2 linked regions of the Homo sapiens genome follow. The protein of the gene in region 1 interacts with the protein of each later gene in a biochemical or structural test. Each region holds a gene or a part of one and is shown on either strand. Other genes may lie near its edges.

Region 1 (3,943 bases):
TTATTTTGGTATACTTAGTAATGTTTTTGCAAGTATTAAAATAATGGAACGTTGAGATTTAAACACAATGACAGTAAACCATTGAAATTTCAAATTCACTTTATACAGCCATCATGAATCCATAAGTGAATGTTAATCATGTAAAAAAATATAAAATGATTGTAATATAACCATCTAATCATTAACATATGGAGTTTTAAGACCACTATTTAATCTGCTAATTTGCTCTGAAATATAAGTAGTTGCTTTTCTGTGATGCATGACATGTCTTTGTGCCTTAGTACTTAATTTGAAATGTCCTTAGTGTAAAAATATACCAAAGTAAATAAAAAAGGAGACACTTATTTACAAAACAATATTGTATACATATTATATAAATGCATTGTTTCAGTCTTTTTATACAATATTGATAGAGTCGATCATTTCTATTATTTTACCATAAAAACTGCAGTGTTGCAAAGGCAGTGTTGTAATTTTCCAAAGACAAAATTACATACTTCTCCAAGTATGTTATTTTGACATTTTGATAAAAACAAACACCATTTGACTGCCTTTTAAGATAATGCAGTTTCTCCAAGTATGCTACAGAATTGAAAGCCAACCTCTAGAAAAATGATTCTTCTTACATTAAAGAAAATCCATTCCTCATTTGGAGGTGTAGGAAAATGCACCTGAAGAAAAGAGAAACTTACTATTTTACTGAATGTTTTTTATGTGATAAACCTGGTAGCCTCAGACATTCAGCCTATCGTATTAGCACCGTTGGCATGGATTGTTAATGTACTGTGTCAATTATAATAGGAATGGAAATTGCATATGCTGCACCATCCCTATTTTTGTGGAATTTTATCTTACCAAGTATACTACCATACAATATAAATTCAAGTGTTTAAGGATGATTCGAATGATGGTATATAACAATCCTGCATTTTACCAATACTGTATGTGGATTTTTCTGTAAATATTAAACAAAACTTTAAAGAAATAGACTTTAAAGCATACTCCTTTAATTCATCAGAACTCAAGGAGAATCGCTTTCATTTCCTCGCCGATGTTGTAATATATAGGAACATAAATGTAATTTGATCTCCTTCTAGCTCAAAAACTCTGGAAATCATAAAACTTTCTTGTATGATTTGTTTGGATGGTTAAATGCCAACCATTGCATATATTCCCCCTTTTAGTTTACATACTGTAGCTTATGCTTAAGTGACTGTAGCATACTCTAGGCCTATAGCCTGTGGTACTTAATTTCACAGCTTCAAAATTGTTGAGGGGAAAACCTTCCATGTTTTAGGAAGTTATGAACGCTTAATATAAATCTCATGAGCACCCACAGCGGTCTACTACCATCGCTGGAATTTTCCCATATATTATTTGTTCTTTGCCATTAAAATATAGCATATTAATTGGAGACATCTTTGTGGGAGTACAGCAAGGGCCTGCTGAACCTCTGGGGTTTGCTTGGTGTACCAGATGAGTATGAGGATATTTTTGTAAAAATACAAATTCACACTCTCCAGAGCAGTAATTGGCCTTATATCTTTTAGGAGCGATAATCCAATCCCATCCAAAAGCTTCAAAATCCACAGTTAGAGGGTAACGACAGCATCGTGATTCTGTTGAGTGCTCATCACAGTCAAGACCAAAATCCCTTCTGGATCTTTTTGGTGTGTCTGTTACCTTGACCTCTAAAAACGGATTCTGTTTGAAAAGGAAAGAACAATCAGTAATATCAATAGGCCTGGAAACACTTTTCTACCTACCTTAAGAAGTTATTGTTGAAGTAATAAACTAATAATTTTGCTCATACCACATTTATTTTTAAAAGGCACAGCATTAAGGAATGTTAATTTACACTAGGCTTGATTTTCCCCTTATGTCTCAAAAGAATTTAACAGCAATACAAATTCCCCTAAGGTCAGTACCATGTCTTTTTAAGTTTTATTTTTCCAAGTTTGAGTACCAGATTGCCTGGCACATAATGGATGTCCTGAAAATATTTATGGGAAGAAAGGGAGGGAAGGAAGAAAGGAGAGAGAGAGGAGAAGAAGAAGTGGGGAATGAAGGAAAGAGCTAACAGCTCCCTCTCTTCTTGCTTCCTGATTAAATATGTTGGCTAAATATGCCTGGTAACTCCTGGAGGGTTAGGTATAGTCATCCATCCTCCTCACTCAGGAAAACTTGGACAATAAAACCAGGGCAAAATAGGGAAGGACAAATTCAGAAGAAGAGACGATGATATTTCCTTTATTCTTTCACTGGAAAATGTTTCTATTCAGGTATTTAAAAATTTGTTGATTCTGTCTCTGCCCCAATCTTTTAATGCATTTGAGACTTTGTTTCCCTTTACATGAAAAAATCTGAGGAACACAACATATTAACCACTGGACATATTATCAATTTTGATCATTAAAATTCTACCTATAAAAAGGAACACTTTCTTAAATAATTGACAGTAGTTTTTAACCCATATCTAAATGAAAATAGCTCTGGCAGTGTTATTTAAGACTGTCAAAAATAATAATATCATTTTGGGAGTCATTAACATTTAAAGTAGCATATATAAAGGAAACTAGATCATTTAGAAAATTGTATAGTCTTTTAGACACCTGCACACGTATGTTTATCGCAGCATAATTCACAGTTGTAAAGATATGGAACCAGCCTAAGTGCCCATCAGCGGATGAATGGATAAAGAAAATGTGGTATATATACACCATGGAATACTATTTAACCATAAAAAAGAGTAAAGGAATGTCTTTTGCAGCAAATTAGATGGAGCTGGAGGCCATTATTCGAAGGGAATGGAAAACCAAATACCATACGTTCTTACTTACAAGTGCGAGCTAAGCTATGCGTACGCAAAGACATACAGAGTAGTATAAGGTACTTCGGAGACTCAGAAAGGGATGAGGGATTAAAAACTACATATTTGGTACAATATACACTACTTGGAGTGATGGGTGCACTAAAACCTCAGACTTCACCACTGTACAATTCATCTATGTAGCCAGAAACCACTTGTACCCCCCAACATATTGAAGTAAAACATGTGTGTGTGTGTATAAATATATATATACACATATATATAATAAAGTAATAAAAATGAAAAAATATTGTATAGTATTTTAAAGAATGTTTTATTTAGAGTAGATCTGATCTGCTAATTATATCATCTTTATAACTAAGATCATTGAATGATTACAAAGGTAACAGGTTTGTTGTTTACAAGTATAATCTTCTTTTGTAAATTATATCAATAGATGAACGTAAAAAGATGTGATCACATTAAGTATTTGAAAACAGAAATTTAGGTAAGCCAGAAGAGTAACCCTAAATTTGTACTAGGAATTAAAATGGTTTTTATTAATTTTTGTGATATATAAGGTATTGTCATTTACTTGGCCTGGTACTAAATTAGTCGGCCTTCCCTGAGTAAATTTTTGCACAAGAATGCTAAGGCAGCTCAGAAATAAGCTAGGTGGCAAAGGTTAACTAGTATGTAACTTGAAATTTTATTAGGAGTATTCCACAAAGAAATATATACACACATCAGTGCATCAACATCCTACAAATAATGAACATATTTATCTTGAGAAACCTTAAATATATTTAATAAAGTATAAGCCTATAAATATCACTCTTAATTTCTCTGAATAAAACATTTAATTATAATTTTAAAAGGTTTATCTGTTTTATGCTAAGCCAAAAATCTTTAACACATTTGGCACCCTTCTGGGAGAAAAAAATAATGTTTGGATTTGTTGGTTTATGTGGTAAAATCCACTATATAGAGTTAATATTTTAATACATACAGTCATGTATCATATTAATGAAAAGCACTTTATATTTCATTCCCAATTCAAAAGGACTTCTTAAGAAGTTAAGAAGTATGGTATAATTGTTTTCTAAAATCTTGATGCAAAGTAAGAGTATCAAG
Region 2 (3,600 bases), on another chromosome or scaffold:
CCCCTCTTTACTGATGAGAAAACTGAGGCTCAGAGAGATTGCCTGATATACCTGAAGTCCCACAATAAGGGCTGCACATGGGATAGAAACTCACTTCCTACATTCCAGATGGAATGCTCTCTGCAGGCCAAGCCCGCAGTGCCTACGTCTAAGCTGGGCCAGGCAGAGGGGCGAGATGCAGGCTCAGCACCCTCCGGAGGGGACCCGGCCTTCCTGGGCATGGCCGTGAGCACCCTGTGTGGCGAGGTGCCGCTCTACTACATCTAGGACGCCTCCGGTGAGCAGGTGTGATCCCAGGGCCCCTGATCAGCAGCGGAGGAGCGCTCGGGCCACCTGCCCGGGCTGTGGAGGAGCGCTCGCGCTGACCAGGCGCTGGGGCGTCCACTGAAGCGGGGTCATCCAGGCAACTCGGGGGAGGGGAAGCTCACAGACCGGTACTTCCCACTCCCCTGATTCTCTCTGTCCATCCTCAACATTCCTTTGCTTCACAGGGTCAGTGGAAGCCCCAACGGGAAAGGAAACGCCCCGGGCAAAGGGTCTTTTGCAGCTTTTGCAGACGGGCAAGAAGCTGCTTCTGCCCACACCGCAGGGACAAGCCCTGGAGAAATGGGAGCTTGGGGAGAGGATGGGAGTGGGCAGAGGTGGCGCCCAGGGGCCCGGGAACTCCTGCCACAACAGAATAAAGCAGCCTGATTGAAAAGCAAAGGGTCTGCTTCTGTCTTCCTGCAGGGCGCAGTCCTGCCCTGGCGGGGGCCGGCCAAGAAGGGAAGGGCCTTGGGAGAGCAAAGTGGGGTTTGCCATTCGCCCTCTGTCCCAGGGCGCTGGGGCACTGGGTCCACCTCGGCGGGGGAGAGGGGCTCGCAGGGAGCCATCCACGGGCTTTCGGCGCCCTCCAGCGGCGTCTCCGGAGGAGGGAGAGACACCAAGACAGCGAGAGAGACAGAGCGCAGAGAGCGAGACGCGAGAGAGCGAGGGTCCAAGAAGGGGAGATAGGGAGACGCGGGCGGAGAGACCGACCCGAGGCGGGGGCGCGGGGCAGGGGCGGCGCGAGGACCTGACAGCGTGTCCCGCGGCGGGGCGGGGGCTCGGCCGCGCGCCCGCGGGGGAGGCCGCCGCTAGAGGGCACTTCAGGAGGGACAGCCCTCCCGGCACCCCGGGGCCCGAGCTCCAGCCCCGGCCTCGCGGCCCGCGGCCCGCGGCCCGGGCGGCCCGAGCCCCCTCCCCGGGCGCGCGGCTCTCCGCCTTCCCCGCCCCGGCTGGCGCGCGGCCCGGCCCGGCCGAGCACTGTCCCGGCCCCGAGGGGGGCAGAGCTCGGGCGAAAACCCGCCCTCCAGCGAGCTCATTTCCCTAAAAAGGGGGGGGGGAGTCGGAGGGAGGGAGGGAGGGAGAGAAAGAAAGAGAGAAAAAGAAGGAAAGGGAGAGGGAGACGGCTGGAGCCCGAGGACGAGCGCGGAGCCGCGGACCGAGCGGGGGGCGGGAGACAGGAAGGAGGGAGGCGAGCAGAGGGAAGGGGAAGAGGTCGGGGAGCGAGGGCGGGAGCGGTCGCGGTCGCGATCGAGCAAGCAAGCGGGCGAGAGGACGCCCTCCCCTGGCCTCCAGTGCGCCGCTTCCCTCGCCGCCGCCCCGCCAGCATGCCCGGCGTGGCCCGCCTGCCGCTGCTGCTCGGGCTGCTGCTGCTCCCGCGTCCCGGCCGGCCGCTGGACTTGGCCGACTACACCTATGACCTGGCGGAGGAGGACGACTCGGAGCCCCTCAACTACAAAGACCCCTGCAAGGCGGGTGAGCGCCCCCCGGCCCCCCGGCGACGGGCCAGGCGGGGAGGCGCGGGCGGGTTCGGGCTTGGGGTTGGGGGAGGACAGTCCAGTGTGGGAAGCCGGGAGCTGCCTGGTTGGCAATGCAGTGGGGAACAAAAGAACGAGGGGGAGAGGGAGGGGGATTTGGGGGACTTTTCGGACTGAAGTTTTGCCGCTGTTGGTGGAAGCTGCTGCCGCTGCCTCTCATCTTCCCAGAGGATTCCAGAGGAAGTCTCCTTGCGTCCCGGGAAAACCGGCGGGCAAGGCGGCTTTTCCTTCTGTAGGAAACTTTTCTGGCCAAACTCCTGTGCGTGCGTGTGTGTGTGTGTGTGTGTGTGTGTGTGTGTGTGTGTGTGTGTTCTTTCCCCTTCTCCCCCATCTCTCCTGCTCCAGGAGCTGGGTGTTTTCCAGCCTGTCTGGGCTGCCCTGGGGCTGCACATCTGTCTGGCTTGGATCTGGGAGGCCTGAGTCTCCAAGGAGCAGGTCCCCCAGCCACCACCCAGCCCAAGTGGAAGAAGAAAGTTTTTCCAGGGATTCCCTGAGATCGTGCTCTCTGGGTATCCCGTAGTTTAACCAGTAGCTGAAGCTTTCTGGGACTTAGGAGACAGCTGTCAAAGTCAGAGAAGCCAACCCAGAAGGGGGACTTAACTTTGTCCCTATGTGCCCAGAGACCCCCGCCAAGGCCAAGTTGGGGTGGAAAGAGGGAAAATACAAAGAGAACCCAGATATTGTATATCAGCTCTGTCACCCCCGAGACACCAGAGGCTAATTAGCTGAGGTCAGGACCCCGGAGTGTGTGTTTGCCTGTATGTGTGTGTGTTCTTTGTCTCTGAAGACTCTATGTAACCCCATCACTCCTGCTGAGCCCAGAAGGGTCCTGCCCCTGGAGTGACCAGATGGCCAGGCACTCGGGCCATTTGCCTGATTGGATGACCCTGGGCAGGCTGTTTGGGGACACACAGGGACAAGATATCAGAACTTTTCCTTGACTTCCTGCCTCTCTGACTTCAGCTCATCTCCAAATAGCCAGAGCCAGGGGAAGTGGCATAGTTGCTAGAACTGGACTGCCTGTGTGGGGCACCAGGGGCGGAGGGGCAGGTTGCTCTAGTCCTGGCTCTGGAGACCCTGTTCAGGGACTCTCCTGGGAGGGTGGCCCACAGGCAGGAATAAGAGACCATCCAATGGAGGAAATCAGGGCAAATCCCTCAGCCCTTACCCCTCTACACCTGCTGGGCTGCGGGTAAACCAGGACATTTGCTGTCATTTTTCTCGCTGGGGGCTGGGAGTGGGTACAGGGCAGAGTGGACTGCGCATGGACTTTGAAGGCAGGCACATCTAGCTTTCAATCCTGACCCTGCTACTCATTATAGCTGTACCACCTCAGAATGGTAATGATCATGTCTGAACTGCCACTTTCACACCTGTAAAATGGAACTGATCATGCATCTTCCCATAGAGTTGGTGGTAAGGGTTAAATATGAAAACATACATAAAACACTTAATAGTGCTTAACACACAGTCAGCGCTAAATAAATGTGGGCTCCCTACTCCCTGTTTTCTGTGCCTCAGACTGTCACTTCATTTTTTTGAGAGGTGTGGGATTGCTGGTGTCTCCTTGTGCCTCTTATCCATCAATCCATCAATACCTAATATGTGCTAGGGCCTGGAATGGATGTTGTGGGAGGTACTGAGACGTACAAGCTAGGACCCTGCCTTCAAGGAGCTTACAGTCCAGTAGGGACCCAAGACACCTACAGACATAACCAATAGCACAAACCAAGCCACACTGAGTGCCACATTGGAGGGT

Evidence for each region. Proteins that work in one complex are often made in the same cells at the same time.
Region 2: of the proteins of MSTN (region 1) and BMP1, one has a biochemical effect on the other in vitro, tested with the Homo sapiens proteins (one study listed by IntAct).

Annotation. Positions count from the first base shown.
Region 1 is NC_000002.12:190,055,935-190,059,877, forward strand, and holds part of MSTN (growth/differentiation factor 8 preproprotein), read right to left. Parts: intron 1,705-3,943; coding exon 1,324-1,704; 3' UTR 1-1,323. UniProt on the Homo sapiens protein: Acts specifically as a negative regulator of skeletal muscle growth.
Region 2 is NC_000008.11:22,163,775-22,167,374, forward strand, and holds the start of BMP1 (bone morphogenetic protein 1 isoform 3 precursor), read left to right. Parts: upstream 1-1,597; 5' UTR 1,598-1,631; coding exon 1,632-1,779; intron 1,780-3,600. Other genes in the region: SFTPC (surfactant protein C isoform 1 precursor), read left to right, coding at 109-267. UniProt on the Homo sapiens protein: Metalloprotease that plays key roles in regulating the formation of the extracellular matrix (ECM) via processing of various precursor proteins into mature functional enzymes or structural proteins.